Homo sapiens: one gene and its partners. The main gene of each other region encodes a partner of the protein of the gene in region 3 in a complex. Each region holds a gene or a part of one and is shown on either strand. Other genes may lie near its edges. The genes, in order: TMEM231, B9D2, TMEM237 and CC2D2A.

Region 1 (7,304 bases), on a different chromosome or scaffold from region 3:
AAATAAAAGTAGTTTGTTGCAATAAGGGCTAAGATTTTAAGATATAGCATAAGAAATACTGAGTTCCAGTCCAGACTCTGTTCACTTCAAAGCAGTGGCTCACACCTGTAATCACACCTGTAATCCCAGCTCTTTGAAAGGCTGAGGTGAGTGTATTACCAGAGTTGAGGAGTTCTAGACCAGCCTGGCCAACATGGTGAAACCCTGTTTCCACTAAAAAACACAAAAAAGTTAGCCCGGAGTGGTGGTGCATGCCTGCAGTCCCAGCTACTTGGAAGGCTGAGGCGAGAGGATTGCTTGAACCCAGAAGGCAGAGGTTGCAGTGAGCTGAGATTGTGCCACTGCATTCCAGCCTGGCTGACAGAGTGAAACTCTGTTGCAAAAAAAAAAAAAAAAAAGAAAAGAAGAAAAGCTAGGGCAAATTGTACCACTTCTCTATTTCTTTTTAATTTTTTATTTTTTTGAAATGTGGGGTCTTGCTATGTTGCCCACACTGGCCTTGAACTCCTGGGCTCAAGCAATCCTCCTGCCTCAGCCTTCCAAAGTGCTAGGATTACAGGTGTGAGCTATCATTTCTGGCGGCAAATATTTTTATCTCATTTACCTGATCATTTAGAAATGTATCTCCAGGTCTTGAGATAACATTTGCATTGAAAATTCTCAGTTTCTCAGTTTTAGGCATTCTCTATTGAGTTCCCACAAGGAAAGATGATTTAGCTTCTTCTCTCCCCCAATTCCTCCCACCATCCCCTATCACATACCCAATACCTTTCTCATTACCCCCAATAGAGTTAAAATCTCTTTTTAGTAAACATTCAGTGTTCATATAATTAAGACTATGTCAATCCTATTCACAACTCTGATAACATTTTGGTTCTCAGTTTTCCTTACTTTTCATTTCCCTGCAGTTAATAATTATTTGCTTAGTTTTCTATGTACTTATACCATTTCATCAAAGAGCTGCTATTCCAATTCCTCAAAATTTGATGTTTAAAGGCATAAGATTTAGTCAAAACCTTGTTCATTGAAATATTGTCCCTAGGCCGGGCACAGTGGCTGACACCTATGATCCCAGCAGTTTGGGAGACCAAGGCGGGTGGATCACCTGAGGTCAGGAGTTCGAGACCAGCCTGGCCAACATAGTGAAACCCCTTCTCTACTAAAAATCCAAAAATTAGCCTGTAATCCCAGCTACTCGGGAGGCTAAGGCACGAGAATTGCTTGAACCCAGGAGGCAGAGTTGCAGTGAGCAGAGAATTGCAGCACTGCACTCCAGCCTGGGCAACAGAACAAGACTGTGTCTCAAAAAAAAAAAAAAAAAAGAAAAGAAAAGAAAAAAGAAAAGAAAAAAAGAAATGTTGTCCCTAATAGTGAAAAAGTCAAAGCAAACCTCAAAAAGAATACAGCTGATTAATAAGTATTGATACATATACAAAACTGAGCCTTCAATTTCTGTCATTATATCTACCTGTAACTCTATCATATTTTAGAATGAGCATGCACTTTTGTAATCAGAATATAAGAACATTTATAAAGTAATAGGAGAAAAGTAACCTGAATCATATTAGGTTGGTGCAAAAGTAATTCCGGTTTTTTGTCATTACTTTTAATGGCAAAAGCCGCAATGACTTTTGCATCAACCTATTACTATTTTTTTTGCAGTTATTTATACGACCAATCGGATTTTTAAAAACAATTTTATTTAGTTGCTGGGAACAAGTCTGATTTTCTTTTCTCCTCAGCTATACAAGGTTGGCTTGTAGGGCAATCATCTTAGATATGTCTGAAGAGATTCGAATTTGAAAGAAGGAAAACCAGAAGTTTCATACTTCTAAAGGAAAACGTTTTCAGAAAATGAGTGAAAAGGAGTGACTACAAAGGAAGCATTCGCTTATCTCAAAGCAAATACTAAATTACAGATTCCTCTCAGCGCTCTACTGGTGAAAAAATTTAAAAATAAATAAATAAATTACAGACAGTAACATGCTTCCATTTCATCCCGACAGCTTCAGGATGGCGCAGTCTCCAATGGGACAAACCCAGGGAGGCGTGACTCGGCCACAGCGCGTTCTGGGAAGGCCGCTTAACCAATCAGCGCCTTGGTTTCCAGGGGTCAGGTCTGCATAAAAATGCTGCCCTTTCCGTTCCTATAGTGGTGTGATGCAGAAACGCCGCGACAGAATGGGGTTATCTACATTAACAGCGCGCGGCCTTCCAGGCTCCTAAATGGACTTTCACAAACACCCTCCATCAGGCCAGGCCCGCGGGTGTGACCCGGGCAGACACAGGCTGCCCCCACACTTCTGGACTCTGTGTCAGGGCGCACACGCTGACAGCATGGCTAACTTTCTGGGGGCCGGGGACATCTGGGAGAAGCAGAATGAAACAGAAGATCGATTCCCTAGGTCCTAGGAGATGAAACGCCACCTTTGCGGGTTCGCGAGTCCTTAGGATCAAAGCTGGGCTCCCCAGGGCCGGGGCCGCTCGCCCCACATCCTCATTCCAGTCCCCATCCCCACCCTATCCCCGACTCTGCCCCAGGCCCAGGCGGGAACCACGCACCGAAACGAGCGGGACGCGCAGGCGATCCCCTTGCAGCCGGTTGAAGGCGGGGAACGTGCTCCAGGCGAGGAACCCGTCGCTTTCGGGTCCGAGCAGGGCCACGAGCAGCACCTGGTGTTGGAAGCGCACGGTCGGCTGCTCCTCGTAGCTGCTCCGCTTCAGCCAAAACCCTGAGTTAAAGAGGGCGGTAGGGAGGCGGTTAGGGAGGCCGGCCCTGGCCGAGCGCGCCCGGGGAGCCTCGTGGCACAGCGGCCGGGGCAGGCTCACCGTGGCTCCGGAAGGCCACCAGCAGCGGCGGGATGTACGTGAGCGCAGCGGCCAGCAGCAGGAACAGCGCGGCTTTGGAGCAGAGCCCCGCGCGGTAACTGCGCTCGACCGGGTGAGAGAAGAGCTCATAGAGCGCCATGAGCACCGCTCGCAGGCACTCCGCGAGCCGGGGGACCAAGTTTGGCTTCTCCTGGTTGCCATCGCCTCGGTCTCCACGGCAACCGACGGCTCACAGAAAGGAGCCAATAGCAAGGCCGCACCGAAAGGAGCCAGTGGCGGGGGCGGGGTTAGCGGGCGTGGCGCTGCCGGGGACGGTCGGCCTAGCTTTTCGAGCTGTGTACGTTTGCGTAAAGGCTGGGCGGCGATAGAACGTTTCCGTGGACCAGAGTCGTGGCTGTTGTCTGTGTTAACATTTGTGTAAAATAAGATGCCCATAAAAGTTGACTTGAACACTGAGGAGGAAGAACTAAATATTTAAATTTCAACTGACATGGACACAAACAATGGTCACCAAGTCCCTAAACAGGTTGTGGGAGCCCCTTGAGGCGTTCATCCAGCGCTGTTTCGGAGAAATCTCTATTTCAGTCTACTCCTATACGTCAGTTATTGAAAAACAACAATCGCAAAAACAAGTTGACCTTTTTGTGTTCCTTGAGCCCAGTCGCAAAGGGCCCTCGTGACTGGGCCTCATGCTAGACAACATGTTACAAAAAGATCTAGGGTCCCAGACCACGCCAAAAAGCTTCATGAGACCTCTCCTCGTCTGTGCACTGACGAGTGGCCGGCTCTGGAGCCCAGGTCGTTGCTTCCCAGTCTGGAGGTGAATCCTCCATAGTCTGGTGAGTGTAAATATATATATATATATGTCTTTTTCCTTCTCCTCTTCCCATTGCAATTTGCTTATTATATCAATCTGCTTATTATATTAATTTGCTTATTATAATATCTGCATTGCCATTTACGTGGGATAAAGCTTGCTTACCCTTAAAGGTACTGTGTGTGTGCCTTTTCTTCTCCCCTAGCGCGTCTCCCGCACAGAACGAACACCTGCTTTTGTGTCATCTGTTAACCCCCAGTGTGGTTCCTACTGAAGTCCAGTCAGTCACAAGCCTGGCCGTGGTCCTGGACCTGGTCCTGGGCTGAGATCAAAGCCAGGTGCTTTTGCCCCCAGATTTTCTGTTGCTTCCACTATGCTCCCATGCAAGACAGACACGGAAACACAAATCCCCTGGCTCTTCCACGGATAGAGTGGAATTACTACAAAGCTCTGATGCACTTCGTTAACCCTGTGTTGGGTACAGCTCAGCCGCGAGTTTTACAGGAATATATGGTCCTCCCCAAAGATCACTGGCTTATTGCTTAATTGAATGCCTACACCCCCCCGCCACCACCCCCAACCAATATTTCTAACATGGTAGAAGGACTTTTTAAAAAAATCTATGGTCCACAGCCAATTTCTTCATCAAATGGCCCTGAATGGCTGGGCACGGTGGCTCACGCCTGTAATCCCAACACTTTGGGAGGCCAAGGTGGGCGGATCACCTGAGGTCAGGGGTTCAAGACCAGCCTGGCCAACATGGTGAACCCTCATCTCTACTAAAAATACAAAAATTAGCCAGGCATGGTGATGGGCACCTGTAATCCCAGCTACTCTGGAGGCTGAGGCAGGAGAATCGCTTGAACCCGGGAGGCACAGATTACAGTGAGCGGAGATCACACATTGGACTCCAGCCTGGGTGGCAGCGAGACTCCATCTCAAACAACAACAACAACAACAAAAAGGTCCTGAGTGGCTGAGCACAGTGGCTCATGCCTGTAGGTCCAGCTACTCGGGAGGCCTGGGCAGGAGGAAGGCTTGAGCCCAGGAGGCTGCAGTGAGCCATGAATGCACTACTGCACTCCAGGCTGGGAGACAGAAGGAGACCTTGTCTCTAAAAAAATAAATACAAAATATTTAAATATAAGTAAATTTGTTAAAGGGTCAGTAAAATGACATTTAAGTGGAAAGACATGATAAGCTTTGTGATTTGGAAAAGTCACTCTAATGACAGCATGTCAGTAGTGTAAACCAAAATGTATCTGAGACAAGTCTCAATCAACGTAGAAATTTATTTTGCCAAGGTTAAGGACATGCCTGTGACACAGCCTCAGGAGGTCCTGATGACATACGCCCAAGGTGGATAGGGTATAACTTGAGTTTATACATTTAGGGAGACATAAGACATCAATCAATACGTGTAAGATGTACATTGGTTCAGTACTGAAAGATGAGACAAGTGGAGGTGGGGTGGGGCTTCCAGACCACAGAATTGGCAGATTCAGAGATTTTTCCAATTGTCAACTGGTTATTATCTAAAGACCTGGAATCAATAGAAAGGAATGTGTGGGTTTGTGGGCGGGGCACAGTGGCTCACGCCTGTAATCCCAACACTTTGGGAGGCCAAGGCAGGCAGATCACTTGAGGTCAGGAGTTCAAGACCAGCCTGGCCAACATGGTGAAACCCTGTCTCTACCAAAAATATGTATTAAAAAAAAAAACATTAGCTGCATCTGGCGGTGTCCACCTGTAATCCCAGCTACTTGGGAGGCTGAGGCAGGAGAATTGCTTTAACCCGGGAGGCAGCAGCTGCAGTGAGCCGAGATCATACCACTGCACTTCAGCCTGGGTGACAAAGTGAGACTCCATTTCAAAAAAAAAACAAAAACAAAAAACAATAAGGGGTTGTGGAGTCTAATGTTTTATCATGCAGATGAAGCCTCCAGGCTTCAGAGAGAACAGATTGTAAATGTTTCTTATCAGACTTTAAGAGTCTGTTCTATTAATATCAGTCTTAAGATCTATGTGTTGATGCTAATACTGGTCAGCTGGGTCTGAATTCCAAAAAGAGGAGGGTATAATGAGTTACGTCTGACTCCCCACTTCCCATGATGGCCAGACTAGTTTTTCAGGTTAACTTTGGAATGCCCTTGGCTGAGACAAGGGTTCCATTCAGATGGTTGGGAGCTTAGAATTTTATTTTAGGTTTACAGTATACCAGGATGGGGTCATTGAGTGAGGGGTGAGGAAAAACAGAAGTCAGGGAGACCAGTCAAGAGGCTGTTGAGGCTGGGTGAAGTGGCTCATCTTAGCACTTTTGTCAGAGGTGTTTGAACCAAAGCAACTCCATCTCGAATAGGGGCTAAGTAAAATAAGGCTGGGACCTACTGAGCTGTCTTCCCAGGAGGTAAGGCATTCTTAGTCACAGTATGAGCTAGAAGGATGGCACAAGATACAGGTTACAGAGACCCTGTGGATAAAACAGGATGCAGTTAAAAAGAAGCCAGCCAAGGCCGGGCATGGTGGCTCATGCCTGGAACCCTGTCTCTACTAAAAATACAAAAATTAGCTGGGCATGGTGGCGGGCACCTGTAGTCTCAGCTACTCTGGAGGCTGAGGAGGGAGAATCAGTTGAACCCGGGAGGCGGAGGTTGTAGTGAGCCGAGATCACGCCATTGCACTCCAGCCTGGGTGATAAGAACGAAACTCTGTCTCAGAGAAAAAAAAAAAAAAGAAAGAAAAAAGAAAAAAAGCCAGTCAAAAGCCACCAAAACCAAGATGGCCTTGAGTGTGACCTCTGGTCGTCCTCACTGCTCATGATCTGCTCATTGTAATGCATTGGCATGCTAAACGATACTCCCACTGGTGCCATGACAATTTACAAATGCCACGGCAATGTCCGGAAGTTACCCTATATAGTCTAAAAAGGGGAGGGACCCTCAGTTCTGGGGAAATCTCTGCCCCTTTCCTGGAAAAGTCAGGAATAATCTACCCTTTGTTTACCATATGGATCAAGAAATAACTATAAATTTACTCAGTCGAGTAGCCCATACTGCTGCTCTGTCTATGGAGTAGCCATTTTTTTTTACTCTGTGGACTTGCCCCAAATTCTTTCCTGTGTTGAGAGCCAGGAACCCTTTCTTGGGATCTGGATTGGGACCCCTTTCCAGTAACACTTTGGGATGCTAAGAAAGGAGGATTGCTTGAGCCCAAGAGTTAGAGGTTGCAGTAAGCAGTGACTGCACTACTGCACTCTAGCCTGGGTGACAGAGCGAGAGCGAGACTGTCTGAAGAAAGGGAAAAAAAAAAAAAAGCCCTGAAGGATCACATTGCAGTGTCAGGAGATGGCGTGAGGTTTGTGCTGGGTGGAGTCCAGTAGTTACTCCCACTACTTTGAAAGCAACCTCGAAGTGGCTTTTAGATGAAGAGAACAGCTGACATCCTAACATCACAGACTTAATAGAGAGGTCAAGACTGCCCATTTGGGAAAACCATCCTAGGGTCCTTACTACAGTCCAAGACGACAACGTCATCAGCCACAAAATGCTTTTGAAATATCAGGTTCAATACTACTTGTTCTTGATTAAAAGCTTTTCTGGGGTGGCAATGTAGTTTGTTGTTGTTGTTGTTTTTATACAGGGTCTCCCTCTGTCTACCT
Region 2 (7,956 bases), on a different chromosome or scaffold from region 3:
CAGACTCAGCTCTAACTGCAGAGCCCAAGCCTTTCATCCAACTGCCTCAGTATTCTTGGCTGGATCAACATCCCCAGCAACTCCCTGAAATAATAAAAATCAGGTTAGTCATTACTCCCTTCTGGGCTGAGTTGAGGGAAGCACCAGGCCCTGCGTCAGGCTCCTTAAAAGCAAGATTTCCCAACAGCCCTATGAAGAACAAATGAGGAAACTGAGGCTCCAAGAGGGGACAGCCTCTGCCCAGGGTCACAGAGAAGGTGAGTGGTCCAACCTGGAAACCAAGTCTGACTCCAGAGCCTGCCCCTCATCCATCAGCTGGAGGGTTCCGATTTCCTGGGAATTTCAACTTCCACCTCACTTACCTGTAGAATCAAAAAGGACCCAGGGGCCAGGCGCAGTGGCTCACACCTGTAATCCCAGCACTTTGGAAGGCCTACGCAGGCGGATCACTTAAGGCCAGGAGTTCGAGACCAGCCTGGCCGACATGGTGAAACCCCATCTCTACTAAAAATACAAAAATTAGCTGGGTATGGTAGCGGGTGCCTGTAGTCCCAGCCACTCGGGAGGCTGACATAGGAGAATCGCTTGAACCCAGGAGGCAGAGATTGCAGTGAGCCGAGATCGTGCCACTGCACTCTAGCTTGGCTACAGAGTGAGACTCTGTCTCAAAAAAAAAAGGGCCAGGCGCAGTGGCTCACGCCTGTAATCCCAGCACTTTGGAAGGCCTACGCAGGCGGATCACTTAAGGCCAGGAGTTCAAGACCAGCCTGGCCGACATGGTGAAACCCCATCTCTACTAAAAATACAAAAATTAGCTGGGTATGGTAGCGGGTGCCTGTAGTCCCAGCCACTCGGGAGGCTGACATAGGAGAATCGCTTGAACCCAGGAGGCAGAGATTGCAGTGAGCCGAGATCGTGCCACTGCACTCTAGCTTGGCTACAGAGTGAGACTCTGTCTCAAAAAAAAAAAAAAAAAAAAAAGGGCCAGGCGCAGTGGCTCACGCCTGTAATCCCAGCACTTTGGGAGGCCGAGATGGGCAGATCACAAGGTCAGGAGATCGAGACCATCCTGGCTAACACAGTGAAACCCCATCTCTACTAAAAATACAAAAAAAAAAAAAATAGCCGGGCATGGTGGCGAGCGCCTGTAGTCCCAGCTATGCAGGAGGCTGAGGCAGGAGAATGGCATGAACCTGGAAGGCTGAGCTAGATTGCACCACTGCACTACAGCCTGGGAAACAGAACGAGTCTCAAAAAAAAAAAAAAAAAAAAAAAAGGGACTAGGACTCAGGCCTGAAGACATGATAATGCCAAATGGCCACATCTGTTTCATAGACATTCATCTGTGCCACGCAACAACATACCCCAGGCTTTACAAACAAGACCCCATCAAAGTCTTGTATAAGCCAGGCAAACACTGAATGAGCACTTCCTATTCCAGCCCTATTCCTATTCTAAGTGCTGTTGATACTCGTTTAGTACTCATGACAACTTCAACAGGTAAATATTTCTATGACTCTCATTGTACAAACAAGGAAGTCGAGGTGAAGAGAAGTGCCCAAGTTCACATAATCAGCCCAAGGGTGCCTTAACAAGCAATAACTGGTTTTGAACCCAGGCAGTCTGTGCTCTTAACCTCAAACCTGTGCTGCTTCTTAGCTACTATTAGCTTCACTTTGAAACAAGGAAACTGAGGCTCAAAGTGGTCGAGTCCAAAGGTCTCCAATTAATAGGTGGGGGAGTTAATATTTAAATGCAGATCTGGCAGCCCATGACCCTAACCATTACACTATACCATGACTCTATAGGGCCTCAGTTGGGGAAGCATGAACAAAATTACTTTCCTGGGACGTGGCGGCTCACGTTTTTAATCCTAGCACTTTGAGAGGCTGAAGTGGGTGGCCTGTTTGAGCGCAGGAGTTCGAGACCAGCCTGGGCAACATAGCGAGACCCTGTCTCTACAAAAAATAAAAAAAATTAGCCAGATTTGGTGGTGCGTGTCTGTAGTCCCAGCTTCTCAGGAGGCTGAGGCGGGAGGATCACTAGAGCCCGAGAGTTCGAGGCTGCACTGAGCTATGATCACACCACCTTACTCCAGCCCGGGCGCAGAGAGAGACCCTGTCTGTATCCCACCCCTCACACACACAAAGATGGGAGCTTGAGACTCATGTGGACAGGGTGTGGGCTGGGCCTGGAGTACTGAGAACTGATGGAAATGAGGTTAAGAGTCTGCGTTAAGGGGTGGAGGAAGGAGCATGTAGCCTCTAGGCTAGGGGTCTTGGTGTGGAAATGAACCAGGCTTGGGGGAATACCTGTGTGAATGCCCCACTTGCAGAAGAGGCTACTTTCCGAGAAACCGCTGGCCCCTATGATCTGCCCGATCACGTGCACCTCAGCCATGGCCCTGGGAGGGGAAAAATATAATCACAACCCTGTGAGGTAAGTGTATTATCTCCATTTGACGGGGGGGAAACTGAGGCCCAGCAAGTAAAGGGTAGTACTAGGATTCCAAGCTAGCTTCGTCACACCCCTGAGGCTGAGGTCTTGACCACAGATCCTAATTGCCAACCCATGAAAGCCTGGAAAAAATGGGGGGACCCTTGTCTGGGGAACCAGCATTTAACTCTGGGAAGTCCAAAATAACCTTTTCGGGTTCAGGTCGGCGGAAAGCCCCGCCCGAAGGGGCTATGGCTCCGCCCACGAGCGCAAAAGACCCGCCTTCCGCGTCACGCCAGCCACCCCGCTTCCCTCCCCCAGCAAGCTCCATAAGGCGCATGCGTTATGAGTTCAGGTCCGACTTAACCCCGCCTCTAAGCGCAGCGCATGCGTCATTCCTACCTTAGCGCACTTAACGGTTAGGAGAGGAGAAAGCGGCAACCGGGGTTGTAGTTCATGGGCTTGACTGCTTCTTTTCTCCGCGGGCGCCGACCAGGCCTGGCTCGCGCCTCTCCCAGGACCCGCCTGGCTGCGAGATATGTAAGCCGCGATACTTCCGCGACCGCGCTCGTCTTGGTTTCCGTGGTTGTTGCTGGGGCAACAGCAGGCTCCTCCCCTAGCTTTGTACTCGCTCTGCGCGCTACTAATTGGTGCTAGCCGTCTGCGGGGGGCGGGGTGAAGCTGTGATGGACATTTTCCTCCTCCGCTCCATTTTGGGAAAATAGCGTCTCTCCAGCTACGGCAAAGGGTTCCGCCATTTTGGGCGTGGCTAGGAAGCTGCCATGTTGAGTGTGGCTGAGGAAGTTTGAGTGCAGTTTCTCCCAGATACCTTCTTTACCAAAAAAGCAAATCCCTAACTGCTCCGTGCTGCGCCTACCCCACCGAAGAGCTCTCTGTGGTCCGGGATCACAAATCAGAGATTGAACCAGGACCAAGGGGGAATTCCTTCCAGGACCTCGTGTACATCCCCGGCCTTGTAACTGGAAAACAAAGCAAAAAAATCACTCCTCATTCAGAGAGTGGAGAAGTTGGGGAGTGGGTTCTGCTTCCGTTTTAGAGTTCCCCTAGGTTTCTCAAGGACAAGGAAGGAAGGAAGTTGGATAAGTCCAACTTCCTTCTCGGAGCTACTACCAAGTTCACTGTTACTGCTTGATTCTGAGCAAGGAGCGGTTGGGGTAGCGAAGAGAAATGAGGAACTAAGATTCCCTTATTTGCAGAAAATCCTCTTTCCTATTGATTGATTTATCAATCAAGAAATGGAGATGTTGTCCCTGGATGCCATCCTAGATGCCATCATTTCCCACATCAAGCCAGTCATCAGGTCCCATCAAGGCTCCTTAAAAGGGTCTCACTCTGTCACCCAGGCTGGAGTACGGTGGCTCGATCACAGCTCATTGCAGCCTCTTAACTCCTGGGTTCAAGGGATCCTCCTACCTCAGCCTCCCATGTAGCTGGTATCACAGACATGCACCACCACGGCTGGCTAATTCTTTTTTTTTTTTTTAAGAGATGGAGTCCTGCTATGTTGCTATGTTGCCCAGTCTTGTCTTGACCTCCTGGGCTCTAGCTATCCTCCCAGTTCTCCCTCCCAAACTGCCGGGATTACAGGCGTGAGCCACCCAGCCAGGCCAATAGATACAAAGTATTTACAAGCTACCATTGGCTAGGCGCGGTGGCTCATAACTGTAATCCCAGCCCTTTGGAAGGCTGAGGCGGGAAGAGCTCTTGAGGCCAGAAGTTCGAATATAGGGAGACCCCATTAATAATGCATATATCAACTAGTGAAGTATTCCATTGAATTGTTTAATATAAATGTTATCCTATTGAAATGTTGTACCCTCGTTATAATTTTGGTTTTTTACTTTTTGAGATGGCGTCTCCCCCTGTCATCCAGGCTGGAGTGCAGTGGTGCGATCCCAGCTCACTGCAATCTCTGCCTCCCGGGTTCAAGAGATTCTCCTGCCTCAGCCTCCCGAGTAGCTGGGACTACAGGCGTGCACCACCACACCCAGCTAATTTTTGTATTTTTAGTAGAGACGGGTTTTCACCATATTGGCCAGACCGGTCTCAAACTCCTGACCTCAGGTGGTCCACCCGCCTCAGCCTCCCAAAGTGCTGGGATTACAGGCGTTAGCCACCGTGACCGGCCGGGTTTTTTTTTTTTTTTTTTTTTTTGACAGAGTCTCCCTCTGTCGCCCAGGCTGGAGTGCAGTGGCATGATCTCTGCTCACCACAACCTCCGCCTCCCAGGTTCAAGCAATTCTTCTGTCTCAGCCTCCTTAGTAGCTGGGATTGCAGGCACCCACCACTATATCTAGCTAATGTTTGTGCTTTTAGTAGAGATGGAGTTCCACCATGTTGGTCAGGCTGGTCTCGAACTCCTGGCCTCATGTGATCCTTCTGCCTCAGCCTCCCAAAGTGCTGGGATTACAGGCATGAGCCACCTCGCCTGGGCCCAGCTACTTTTTGTATTTTCTTTTTTATTTTATTTATTTACTTTTTTTTTTTTTTTTTTTTGAGACAGAATCTTGCTCTGTTGCCCAGGCTGGAGTGAGCCTCTGCACCTGGCAGAGGTTTCACTTTTAAATGATCTTTCTGTCCTTTAAGCTGGAGCTGGGGAAAATGTATTTATTTATTTATTTATTTCTGGATGCTGTGTGGGTGAGGTAGACAGCTCTAACCTTTCAGCTCTTGGGGCCCCTGGTCCCCTAGTGGTGGCACCAGCCTTGCATTCTCTTTTCTCAAGCCCCCATTTTGTCCATCAGGAAATCTTACTGCCTCTACTTTTGAAATACACCCTAAATCCCACTTCTCACCTCTTTGTCGCCCTGCACCTTGATCTGTCCAAGTTCATCTATCACCTGGACTATGACAGGGACCTTGTCTCTGGGGTCCCCTTTGCCAACCCCTCTAGTTTGCACCCCACATGCAGCTGGAACCCTGTGAACACCTAAGTCAGGTCCCATCTGCTCAGACCCGTCCAGTGGTCCCCATTTCACTCAGGGTAAAAGCCAAAGTCTTATCATGCATGACAAGGCTCTCCACAACCTGGCTGGCACCTCCTGCCTCATTTTTGTATTTTTAGTAGAGACGGGGTTTCGCCATGTTGGCCAGGCAGGTCTCAAACTCCTGACCTCAGGTGATCTGCCCACCTTGGCCTCCCAAAGTGCTGAGATTACAGGCATGAGCCACTGCTCCCGGCTGAGGTCTTCATTCTGAAGGCTCCCATGTATACATGTTAAATAAAAGAAAATAAATTATCGTCAACTATAAATAATGAGATTCAGAAAATATGATTGAGGCCGGATTCGGTGGTTCATGCCCGTAATCCCAGCACTTTGGGAGGCCAAGGAGAGTGGATACCCTGAGGTCAGGAGTTCGAGACCAGCCTGGCCAACATATAGCGAAACCCTGTCTCTACTAAAAAATACCAAAACTAGATGGGTGTGGTGGCACATGCCTGTGGTGTCAGCTATTTGGGAAGCTGAGGCAGGAGCATCACTTGAACCTGGGAGGCAGCAGTTGCAGTGAGCCGAGATCACGCCACCGCACTTCAGCCTGGGCGACAGAGCCAGACTTCTACTCTCAAAAAAGAAAAAAAAGAAAAGAAAGGAAAATATGATTAACTATAGAGTTTATTCCAGGCTACAGGACCAGTACATATGTTACAACAGTTTCATTAGTACATCTTGCTATGCTGCAGGGAAGATTGCGTTAACATTCTGATAGGAGGAGGAGTACTCTTTCTTTCTTTCTTTCTCCTTTCTTTTTTCTTGAGATAAGATCTTGCTCTGGGGCTGGGCGCGGTGGCTCACGCCTGTAATCCCAGCACTTTGGGAGGTTGAGGCGGGCAAATCACGAGGTCAGGGGTTCAAGACCAGCCTGGCCAACATGATGAAACCTCGTGTCTACTAAAAATACAAAAATTAGCTGGGCATGGCGGCGGGCGCCTGTAATCCCAAGTACTCGGGAGGCTGAGGCAGGAGAATCACTTGAACCTGGGAGGCGGAGGTTGCAGTGATCTGAGATCGTGCCATTGCACTCCATCCTGGGGGACAAGAGTGAGACAAAGTCTCAAAAACAAAACAAAACAACAACAAACAGATCTTGCTCTGTTACCCAGGCTGGAGTGCAGTGGCACAATCACAGCTCACTGCAGCCTCGAACGCCCAGGCTCAAGCCTCCTGCCTAAGCCTCCCCAGTAGCTGGGACTACAGGCGTGTGCCACCATGCCCAGCTAATTTTTCAATAATTTTTTCTGTAGAGACATGGTCTCACTCTGTTGCCCAGGCTTGTCTCAAACTCCTGGGCTCAAGTGATCCACCTCTGCCTCCCAAAGTGCTGGGGTTACAGATGTGAGGCCACAACACCCGGCCTAGGAGTAATGTTCTGAGGTGATCTTATCTCTGGCACTGCTTGGTCATTCTTAATCATTTACAGGAAAAAGCAGAAGTTGTAACTGCATGCTACGTGACTCAGGCTACATAGCAACATTCCTCTCAAGGCTTGGAATAATTTAAAGTTCCAACAGCTTTAAGTTTGAATTATCTAACCACATTATCGAAAGTTGGCCAGGCCTGGTGGTTCATGGCTGTCTGTAATCCCAGCACATTGAGAGGCCACAGCAACAGGATCACTTGAGGCCAGGAGTTCTGGACCAGACTAGGCAACGTAGTGAGACCCTCATTTCTACGAAAACGTTTAAAAAAAAAATAGCAGGGCATGGTGACACATGTCTGCAGTCCCATCTACTTAGGAGGCTGAGGCAGGAGGATCCCTTGAGCCCAGGAGTTTGAGGCTGCAGTGAGCTGTGATCATGCCAAGGTACTTCAGCCTGGGTGACAGAGTGAAAACCTGTCACCTTTTTTTTGGGGGGGGTGGTTATTGGGTTTTTTTGAGACAGAGTCTCGTTCTGTGGGCCAGGGCTCACAGCAACTTCTGCCTCCCAGGCTCAAGCAATTCTCCTGCCTCAGCCTCCCAAGTAGCTGGGATTACAGGCATGTGCCACCACACCCGGGTAATTTTTGTATTTTTAGTAGAGACGGGGTTTCACCATGTTGGCCAGGCTGGTCTTGAACTCCTGACCTCAAGTGATCCACCTGACTCAGCCTCCCAAAGTGCTGGGATTACAGGTGTGAGCCACTGTGCCCGGCCTGAAGCTGTTTTAAAATATATCCACAAATGCTTGGGCAGCCCCCTTTCAGTAAGTGGAGCCTAATTCTCCTTCCCTTCAGTATGGCTAGTTTTTGTAATTTGCTTCTAACCAATAGAATATGGGGCTGGGCACAGTGGCTCACACCTGTAATCCCAGCACTTTGTGAGGCCAAGGCGGGCAGATTGCTTGAATCCAGGAGTTTGAGAGCAGCCTGGACAACATGATGAAACCCCATCACTACAAAAAATACAAAAAATTAGCTGGGTGTGGTGGCATGCCCCTGTAGTCCCAGCTACTCTGGTGGCGGAGGTGGGAGGATCGCTTAGGTTGAGAGTTGGAGGCTACAGTGAGCTGTGATTGTGCCA
Region 3 (6,853 bases):
TCCAAAAGTAGTCTTTTTTGAGAGAGTGGCTAGGGACATTAGGTAAAGAGAAAGCAAAGATACTTTATTGAGGATTAATGTCATGGTAGTTGGAAGGAAAACTTTTAGAGAATTTTCTTGGGAATACTAACTTTGCATTTATATGAATGTATACAGCAGATCTGTTCAGAGTTTAAATAACCTTTGAACCCTTGTTCTCATTATATATGTGGTATATTTTACAGGGAAATTATATTTTCTTTCACACTTTACTTGTTATTTCTCTAGGAGAGGACTGCTGTTTTTTCTTAAAGTTCATAAAATAGATATATTTGTGTATATGAACCAAACTGAAGGCACTTCTAATGAGTGTTTCTACATTTTTAGGGAAGCAGGAATTGAGGAACAGATTCTCCAGCCATGGATTGTGGTGAATCTCGTGGTGGCTCTTCTGGTTGGATTATCTTGGCTATTTTTGTCTTATAGGCCAGGCATGGATCTTAGTGAAGGTATTAAAGAAAAAAAATAGCATAAGAATATCCTGAAATCTTCTATAATGGTTTTATAAACCTCCTTTTAATAGGTATAGCTTATAATATTCCAATAACAAAGACACATTTAAATTAAAATGATACAAGAAGAGAGAAAATAAAGTGGTGTAACAGAATGCCAAGAGAAGCAGGGAGGAGTGTCTAGGAGGGCTTGAGTCTGGAACTACTTAATGAGGGGCTTCTGTGGCCCTTGTGCATTTTCAGGAGGTATTTCTTCTCTTGGAACCCTTCAAGTAATGTAGAAAAAGTCTTTGCTCTTCACTTCTCTTAGTCTCCTGCTGATGAATTTTGAAATAAATCATGCTTTGTCTACATAGCCTCTCTGTCGGACACATACTCAAGTCAATTATTCTTCCTTCTCTATTTGGTACAAATTCTTAACCGTTCATTGGCTAACAGTGTTTAGTACTCTTTTAACATGCTCAGTGTGCAGTGATTCACTCATCTCTAGTCCCCAGACCCCTTTTGGAACACCTGAAGAAGAATCATCATATTAGCAAACTGCTAACCTTTTATGCTGCTTGAGGAACTGTTTAGTATTTGTATTGTAAATTGTGTTTCCTTGGCCAATGTTCAACAGTTTTACCCTTGAATATCTTTTTTTTTTTATTTTTTATTTTTGGAGATGGAGTCTCGCTGTGTCGCCCAGGTCAGAGTACAGTGGCTCGATCTGGGCTCACTGCAAGCTCCGCCTCCCGGGTTCATGTCATTCTCCTGCCTCAGCCTCCCGAGTAGCTGGAACTACAGGCGCCCGCCACCACGCCCGGCTAATTTTTTGTATTTTTAATAGAGACAGGGTTTCACCATGTTAGCCAGGACAGTCTCAATCTCCTGACCTCGTGATCCGCCCGCCTCGGCCTCCCAAAGTGCTGGGATTAAGGCGTGAGCCACCGCGCCTGGCCAAACATCTTTTATGGATATTTTCTGGGTCTTGGTTATTATTTTATTTTTTATTTGACCAACTATTTACAACCTATCTGCCTCAGAAGCCTTAGCATGCAGAATTTCGCCAACATCTATGCTAAGTAATAGTTTAAATGTAGAAAATGTCAGCTAATAACATTCTACATTGTGGCTGGGATCAAAACTGCATCTGGATTGTGCAGTATTCAGTCTAAATATTTCCAGAATCCTGTTCTTTTAAGGCCATGTTAGTCATACAACATGTGGATTTAAAAAGTAAGTATAAAATGAGATGATAATACCTGGCTTCTTGCGTTGTTTTGATGATTAAATGGGATGACCCATTTAAAATATCCTGGCACACATCTCTTGTTAGTTCCAAGTCCTTCCTCTGTATCTGTCCCCTATGTTTCAGATGATCTGATCACTGTAGAATTAGACATTTTAGCTGTTTAATGATCTTTGATTCTCTAAGTGACTTAAATTTCCAGGTAGGATTGTGTATATTGTCTCTATTACATTTTACTTTTAAGGGGTCTATAATTTAAAATTTAAATATTTTAAAATGTAAAACTTGTACATTTGTTATCAGCTTACCTTTTAAATCATATTTCACTGTCAAGAAATCTTACTTGAGGGCTTTCTATTAGTATATATTATGTCAATTTTTTAAAGGACTATTTATAAATAAGCTATACAACTCTGTTGGAGGTACTGGGAAACAATTTTAAGTATGATCTGTTCATTTTCTTCTCCAGAGTTAATGTTCTCCTCAGAGGTGGAAGAATATCCTGATAAAGAGAAAGAAATCAAAGCCTCTTCATAATACCAGCTCACCTTTGGAGGAATAATGACCCAGTATTTGTCCCATTTTTGTTTTTAAATGTATTTTTATAAGATGTATACATGTGTATTTGTAATAGATTTTTTGATTATATAATACTGAAACATCTCTCAATATTATGAAAAATGTTAAAATTGTGTTTGCTGTTTATGTCTAAACATTAATTTGTCTAGCATTATCATCTTAATGACAAAGGGAATAATGAACTAGAAACCAGCAAGTGAAAGTGTTTATTTCCTATTTTCTCAAAACAGTTGTATTTATAACTATTACCTTAAAAAGCACTGGTTTAGAAAAAGCCATAACTTAAATAGTGTTATAAAATATATATCAGGTTTAAACATAAATTTAGCGAATATGGTAGAAGGGAAAAAAGCCTTCATTTTTGACCTCCCCTTACTGAATAAATTGAAATATGAAGTTTGTCTTTTCTGAAACTGGCTTAGTGATTGAGTATCATGTAATAATTATAATATAATTTAGCTTGAAAGATGCTCTACATTATGACCAATAAAAAGGGAATGTATGTTTTGTTTGAAAAATTATATAACCTAAATTTTTTACCTAGAAGTAACTAAAAAGTTGCTTCTCATTATAATCTGTACTAGTGGTTCTCATATCTGGTTGTACATCAGGATCATAGAGGGAGATTTTAAAAATCTATGTAGCAAAAGAGGCTGAGCAGGGCAAGGCTCAGGGGAATAAAGGAGAGACCTGTGAGCTTGTGGGCTCCCAGTTGACATCTGCAGTACCCTTTCCTCTGTCCCTTTTTTCTGAGTGACAAGAAATAGGAGTAGAAATTCACCATCTCTGTTCTCCAGCTCTTTGTCAGAGAGGTTTCTGGTTTTCCAGGAAATCCCCCTCTTGAGATGGGTCCTGCACTGGGAAAGATCTCTTCAGAACTATATCCAATGGTACCTCAGCTGTTGTATATGAGACCCTAAAGCTCAAGTTGAGGAGAAGACTAGCTATGGGAAAAAATGTTTCAAAGGCTGTTGAGCACATCAATAAAACTATTGAGCCTGCCCTGATTAGCAAGCACCTGAATGTTATAGAACAGAAGAGGATTGACAAATTGATGATAGAGACAGTTGACCCTGACAATAGGTCTAAATTTGGAGTGAACATTATACTGGGAATCTCTTTTGCTGTTTGTAAGGCTGGAGCTGCCGAAAAGGGATTCTCCCTGCTGTCACAGAATTGTGAATTTGCTGGCAATTCTGAAGGCATCCTGCTAGTTCCAGCTTTCACTGTGACCAGCAATGGTTCTCAATCTGGCAATAAGCTGGCAGTATAGGAGTTCATAATCTTCCCCGTCAGCAAACTTCAGGGAAGCCATGCTCGTTAGAGCCAAGGCTTAGCACACTTGAGCCGTGTCATCAAAGAGAAATGTGAGAAAGCTGCTGCCAATGTGGGGGATTGTGGTAGGCTGCATAATGTCTCCTAAAGATGTCCATGTCCTAATCCCTGGAACTTGTGAATATACTACTTTACTTGGCCAAAGGGATTTGCAGATATGATTAAGGTTATGAACCTTAAAACGGGGACATTATCCTGTATTATCCAGAAGGGTCCAGTGTAATCTTATGAGTCCTTAAAAGCAGAGAAGAAAGCCTTTTATGTCTGTGGTCAGAGAGGTCAGAAGTTATGATATTGCTGGCTTTGAAGATGGAAGAGGGGGCCATGAGCCAAGGAGAGTGATGACCTTGCAGCTGAGTACGGCCCTTGGCCAACAATGAGCAAGGAAATGGATTTCAGTCACATAACCACAAGGAACTGAGTTCTATGAGTATCCCAAATGAGCAAGGAAACAAATCCTCCCCTAGAGCCAAGAAAGGAAGGCAGCTCTGTGGATACCTTGGTTTTGGCCTGGTGCTGCCCATGTCATACTTTTGACATACAGAACTGTAAGATAGCAAGTGTATGTTGACTAAGCTGCTAAATTGGTGGTGATTGCTTATGGCAGCAATAGAAAGCTATATATCCTAGAGAATAAAGAAGGCTAGAGCTGCTGTGGAATGCACTTGGGAAAGCTGGCTACATTGATAATATGTAACTGCCATGGGCATAGTTGCCTTTGTATTCTTCCAGGTCTGGGAAGTACAACTTAGACTTCAGATCTCGTAATGACCCAGGAGGCATATAAACCTGAGCAGCTAGTGGCCCTGTACAAGTCCTTCATCAGGGAAAAACATTGAGTATTCCCTGATTAAGGACTTGTACAGAGGACTCTGTTTTCCCTGGTGTTTCTGGTGTGTCTCAAAAATTGTTTGACTGTGATGACAGGGAAGTTTGGAAGAAGTTCACTGCTAATGCATGTCTCCAGGAAGCAGGGAATGATCTCACAGTGACACTTGAGGCACATTGCTGAGGCCGTCGATGAGAATTCATGTAACTTTCTCCAGCTTACAGTGGACTAGATTGACATGCAAGCTGATCCAGTCCAATTGGTAGGGCATCATGGTTTCTCATTACTCACTGACTTAAAATACTTTTATTGCCATCCTGGTGAAGCACTGCACTGGGTAGATAACACAGGGGCACCTTGCTGATCAGAGCCCTTGGCCAGGTACAAAGAGCTCAGTTTCTAAAACTCTGTCATTTCAATAATGTTATAAATTGAATCATACAGTATGTAATTTTATGGGATTCGCTTTTTTTCTGTTGATCTCTTTTTTTCTGAGTCATCTCAGCTGTTGTGTGTATCAATAGTTCATTTCCTTTTACTGTTTTGTTTGGTTTAACTCATTGACCTATTGAAGGATATCTGGGCTCATTCCAGTCTGTGAATAATGCTGCTGTGGACATTCATGTGCAAGTTTTTGTGTGAACATTAAGTTTTCATTTCTTTAAGATAAATGCCCAGGAGTGAAACTGATGGGTTGTATGTAGTTACAAACTGCCAAGCTGTTTTCCAGAGTTGGCGGTACCATTCTAATTTCCCATGACAATTTTTTGAAGAGTCCAAGCTAGTTGCTTTAGAGTGCCTCACCTACATTTTTTAATTGTCTGACTTTTTCCTAATGACATCACTTAATTTGTTCCTCAATCTCCTGAATTTCCTATAGACTGGAGGTTAGGTCTGGTGGTTTGATTAGATTTTTTAAAAAAATATGACTTCATCTGTGATGCTGTGTACTTTATGTTGCATAACATGAACCCTAAGAACAGAGTGAGCTGCTGGACAGCAAGTTTCATGGGGTGCAGTAATTAACACACCACATAGTATAAATCTGAAATAATGACAAATGTGTTAAGGGCCTTGGGATATTGGGCCATGTACTCTGAGGAGCACAAGGTGAGGTGCAGGTTCCTGCCCCTAAAGAACTCTATCTTTTGAGATTAGCAACTAACAGTGTGAGCCCACTAATAGGATGTGAAAGTTGTCAAAATCAAGTTCTGGTCATTGTGTTAAAAATCCTAACAAATAGAGCTGGGGAAGGCCGTGAAAGGACGATTTTCATGCACAGATGTCTGATAATGAGGACTATCATTAAAAGACTGCACAAAACCACACCTTGCACAAAGGCCATCACAACCTGACACACACAAAAAATACTTCTATGAGGACATTTGCCCAGCAACTCCCTGTCCAATGTCCAACTGGCAACATCCTTGTTATTGATCCTTGTAGCCAAGGATAATTCTCTCAAAACAATCATTTTTGCTTTAAAAACCGTTGTCTTCCTTGACCTCCCTGTATATGCACATAGTTTACTGTGGCACTTGTATTCTTATTGCAATGCCTACTCCTGAATAAACATCATTTTCTTTCAGAGAGTCTCCCTCTCTGTTATTTAGGCTGACAAGGATATGCCAAGAAGTAGCTTGGATATAGCAGTTAACTCTGCCTTTAGGATATGTGTATGGGGATATAAGAGTTAACTAAAAGCTGACCTTTGAGTTGGTCCTTGAATAAAAGAAGAATAGATTCCAAAAATAAGAGGAATAAATAATGATCCTGAGCTAGGAGAGTACATTTTGCAGACCTTTGGTTTCCATATTAAGAAATTCAGATTTTTATGTACAATAAAGAAGTTCTGGAATTCTCTGGTTTTGTTCTGTTTGCATTTATTTATATTTTTAACTTTTAGGTTCAAGGGTACATGTGCAGGTTTGTTATATAGGTAAATTTTGTGTCATGGGGGTGTACAGATTATTTCATCACCCAGGTAATAAGCCTAGTGCCCAAAAGGTAGTTTTTGATCCTCTCCCGCCTCCCACCCTTCGCCGTCAAGTAGGCCCCAGTGTCTGTTGCTCCCCTCTTTGTGTCCATGTGTTCTCATTGTTTAGCTCGCATTTATAAGTGAGAACGTGGTATTTGGTTTTCTGTTCCTGTGTTAGTCTGCTTAGGATAATGGCCTTCAGCTCCATTCGTTACTGCAAAGGACTAATACGGGGGCAGTGAAAGGGATGGATGACAGCAGGTTGGCAGACCCATGAGTAAATCATTGCAATTGTCTCGTGTGTGTGTTGTCCCAAATTAGGTGCCATAAAGGGAAAAGGTAAGTAAGATTCAGATATTTAGGGTCAGAATTTTAAAATGTGTCTGAATGTTTAAGATTTTGTGGATATG
Region 4 (3,206 bases), on a different chromosome or scaffold from region 3:
TTGCAGTATTCACTTTATTGCAATGGTCTGGAACCAAGTGCACACTATCTCCGAGGTATGCCTGTACATGCAAACCTGTGGAAGATGAAGTAATCTTGCAGTCTTGGATATTTATTTGTTTTGTTTATTTGGAGAGAGGAGGAGGAGTAGCAATAAAAACTGGTAAACATTCAGTTCAGGCAAATTGTCTTAGTGTTTTCTAAAGATGAAGAATCATTTGATGGAATATAACTCACTACTGCTTTTTATTTCAACTAATATTTGAATTAAACACAGCAAAGGAGGAGGAACTCTAAAGGCTCTAATGATGCTCTCTTTAAAGCTTTACCTTGCTCTAAGGTAAAACTTGTTAAGTTTCTCTCACTTTCATTCCATTGCTGTTAATATTTGCCCAAGCAAAAGGTAAGTAAGTACAAAGGAATAGAGGCAGGAAGCTCATAATATATCGTACTGTGGGTAGTCTCAATTGAATTTCAGGGTCAAGTAGCAGACACAAGGCAGACTGCTAAATAGAACACTTTGCACAGTTTGAAAACAGTTGATAATTTTATTATTTGCCAATAATATGTTCTTCTGATGTGATGCATATAATTTAAAATTTTCTCATATCCTAAGTGTAGTTTTTACATGATACAGAAAGTACAGTGAAAAAAATTACCTGTTGCGTATAAGAGAGGCAACATAGATCCAAACAGACAAAACATTTTTGGGGTATGGGTGTATGTATACAGCTAAAGCAAATTCAACATTAGGAACATCAATATTATGTACTCCAGTACTATACACAGCGTCAATTAAAGGCTTCACTTCAGAATAAGGCATGTGAAGAGGAAATCCAGAGAACTGAAGGGAAAAAACATTTGTAGTCATTAGTGAAGTTTGAAGATTTAATACATTTTTTCCTACGTAAATGTATGCAATTAAGATAAGTGTTCTGGATCTCAGTTATTTGCTTGTGTTTTTCTACTCAGCTTTTTATTAGCAATACAGAAAATCGAGAGCTGCTTAATATCCATTTTGTTTTCCTTGCATATAGGTGTATAAGCCACCTGTTAGTCACTCCATCACTGTTCCCTCTTTTTGAAAGTACCTAGTATGCATCGTAACCATTGTAATTCCAGATACATAGGTTAAACTAACAAATACATTTCTTTTTTCTTTTTTTTTTTTTTTTTTGAGACAGGTCTGACTGTTGTCCATGCTAGACTGCAGTGGCATGATCATGGCTCACCACTGCAGCCTCGGCCTCCTGCTGGGCTCAAATGGTCCCCCCACTTTAGCCTCCTGAGTAGCTGGGACTGCAGGCAAGTGCCACCATCCTGGCTACTTTTTGTATTTTTTGTAGAGATGGAGTTTTGCCATGCTGCCAAGGCTGATCTTGAACTCCAGGGCTCAAGCGATCCGCTGCCTCAGCCTCCCAAAGTGCTGGGGTTACAGGTGTGAGCCATAGCGCCCGACAATAATTTTCGTCCCCTTGGCTACAATGATTGATCCACGGGGATGGGCAAGTGATCAAAGGGAGTCTCAGAGGGAATCTTGGGAAACTTGTTAGGAATAATGGCACGTGATGTTCTCCTGCTTTGGGTAGTATGTGCGCAGATGTGAATTCTGTAAGTGTTCCAGCATTTGCTTCCATGAGGAAACCCAGTCTCAGGATGATGCCATCATACGGAAGAGGAGGGCAGAATGGGAGGACTTGCAAAAGAGTGGGACAGCCCTGATAGCTACCCTCTAAGCTTTACTTAAGCCAGTAGATTCTCTATTGCTCAAGCCTTTTTGAGTTTTCTGACACTTGAACTGAAAATATCCTGGCTGAGAACCTGCCTTATAAGTTAAAGGATAAATTTTACTCAGTGAGTGATCTAATTTGACCTTCACACTGTTTAGCTAGTAAGGCTTACTGTTAAGTTTTAGTTACGAGCCTGCTTTGTAGGTTTTATTATCCAGCTATAGCATGTGAACATAGCAGCAGGCAGTAAAGAGGGTATATCGTCTATTAATAACCACCTTTCTTAGCAATGAAAAGCAATCAGTATAAAACCATATCCTTAAAAAAACTGCTCTAGAGTGTTTTGATCCTTATGCACAGTTGTGTCTAACATGATTTAGCCAGATGTTTTCATTTTTTTGATACGTAAATGTATTTCATAAAAGGTATTTTTCATGGGATACTTATATGAAAAATGGTGGTATTTTGCTATTTCATGATTATTGAGGTTTAAAACTTATGATCACAGTTTTTAGTTTATGCTGCTTTAAATATGTACTTCTGGGAGCAACGTGGGTCTTTTGATTCCAGAAACCTATTATTGGCTAATTTCCAATTTGAAACAAGGAAATCCACAGTCAGTTTAGGATCCATTTGTAACTTACCCTGTAGTCTCCCAGCTGTTTTAGCAGTTCTGCTCTGTGGTCATCTTCTACATCTTCTCCTTGACTTTTTTCTAACAGAGGCAAGAAGTGACGCAGAGTAGAGGTACAATACCTATTCCACCGAGTCAGATGGCGTGGCCTCCAGTCCATGATTTTTTCTTTTAGTATTTTTTCAATCCTGTTCACAAAACATAAATTCCATTTTTTGGTGACTCACTTTTCCCTTGTTAAAAAATGTATGTAGTATGTAGTGGGGATTCAGATGATTGTATAACTATATTTTTGTTGATGGAGTTGTGATTATCCAGGCATAGTTAATGTCTAATAATGGGCTACTCCCTGGGGATTCAAAATTAACATGCAGTCCTGTCCTTAAGGGTTGTATATGAGTTGAGATGGGAAATAGTCCTATAAATAGAAAGTATGTGTATCCTAAGAGCTATAACAGATGCTTGAAATGTAACACAGAAGAGGGAGTACTGAATGACTTGGGGATAGCTGAATTCAATACATGCAGCAAAAGTTTATTATTACTAATTTTTTTTAAAGGCAGGATCTTGCTCTGTTGCCCAGGCTGGATTGAAGTGGTACAATCACAGCTCACTGCATCCTCAACTCTCGGGCTCAAGTGAACCTCCCACCTCAGCCTCTTTGGTAGCTGGGACCACAGGTGCATGCCATTATGTCTGGCTAATTTTTTTTTCTTTTTTATAGAGACAAGGTCTTGCTATGTTGCCCAGGCTGGTCTCAAATTCTTGGGCTCAAGTGATCCGCCTGCCTTGGCCTCCCAAAGTGTTGAGATTACAAGTGTGAGTCACTGCGCTTGGCCATGA

What was found.
Region 1: TMEM237 (region 3) and TMEM231 share a complex: the UniProt entries of both Homo sapiens proteins name them as parts of the tectonic-like complex.
Region 2: TMEM237 (region 3) and B9D2 share a complex: the UniProt entries of both Homo sapiens proteins name them as parts of the tectonic-like complex.
Region 4: TMEM237 (region 3) and CC2D2A share a complex: the UniProt entries of both Homo sapiens proteins name them as parts of the tectonic-like complex.

Annotation. Positions count from the first base shown.
Region 1 is NC_000016.10:75,553,242-75,560,545, forward strand, and holds the start of TMEM231 (transmembrane protein 231), read right to left. Parts: upstream 2,969-7,304; coding exon 2,830-2,968; coding exon of another isoform or gene 2,733-2,829; coding exon 2,563-2,732; intron 1-2,562. UniProt on the Homo sapiens protein: Transmembrane component of the tectonic-like complex, a complex localized at the transition zone of primary cilia and acting as a barrier that prevents diffusion of transmembrane proteins between the cilia and plasma membranes.
Region 2 is NC_000019.10:41,361,120-41,369,075, forward strand, and holds the start of B9D2 (B9 domain-containing protein 2), read right to left. Parts: upstream 3,031-7,956; 5' UTR 2,839-3,030; exon of another isoform or gene 2,828-2,838; intron 2,807-2,827; exon of another isoform or gene 2,645-2,806; intron 2,405-2,644; 5' UTR 2,401-2,404; coding exon 2,313-2,400; intron 1-2,312. UniProt on the Homo sapiens protein: Component of the tectonic-like complex, a complex localized at the transition zone of primary cilia and acting as a barrier that prevents diffusion of transmembrane proteins between the cilia and plasma membranes.
Region 3 is NC_000002.12:201,619,661-201,626,513, reverse strand, and holds the end of TMEM237 (transmembrane protein 237), read left to right. Parts: intron 1-366; coding exon 367-488; intron 489-2,191; coding exon 2,192-2,259; 3' UTR 2,260-6,328; downstream 6,329-6,853. UniProt on the Homo sapiens protein: Component of the transition zone in primary cilia. Required for ciliogenesis.
Region 4 is NC_000004.12:15,598,874-15,602,079, reverse strand, and holds the end of CC2D2A (coiled-coil and C2 domain-containing protein 2A), read right to left. Parts: intron 2,552-3,206; coding exon 2,374-2,551; intron 844-2,373; coding exon 655-843; 3' UTR 528-654; downstream 1-527. UniProt on the Homo sapiens protein: Component of the tectonic-like complex, a complex localized at the transition zone of primary cilia and acting as a barrier that prevents diffusion of transmembrane proteins between the cilia and plasma membranes.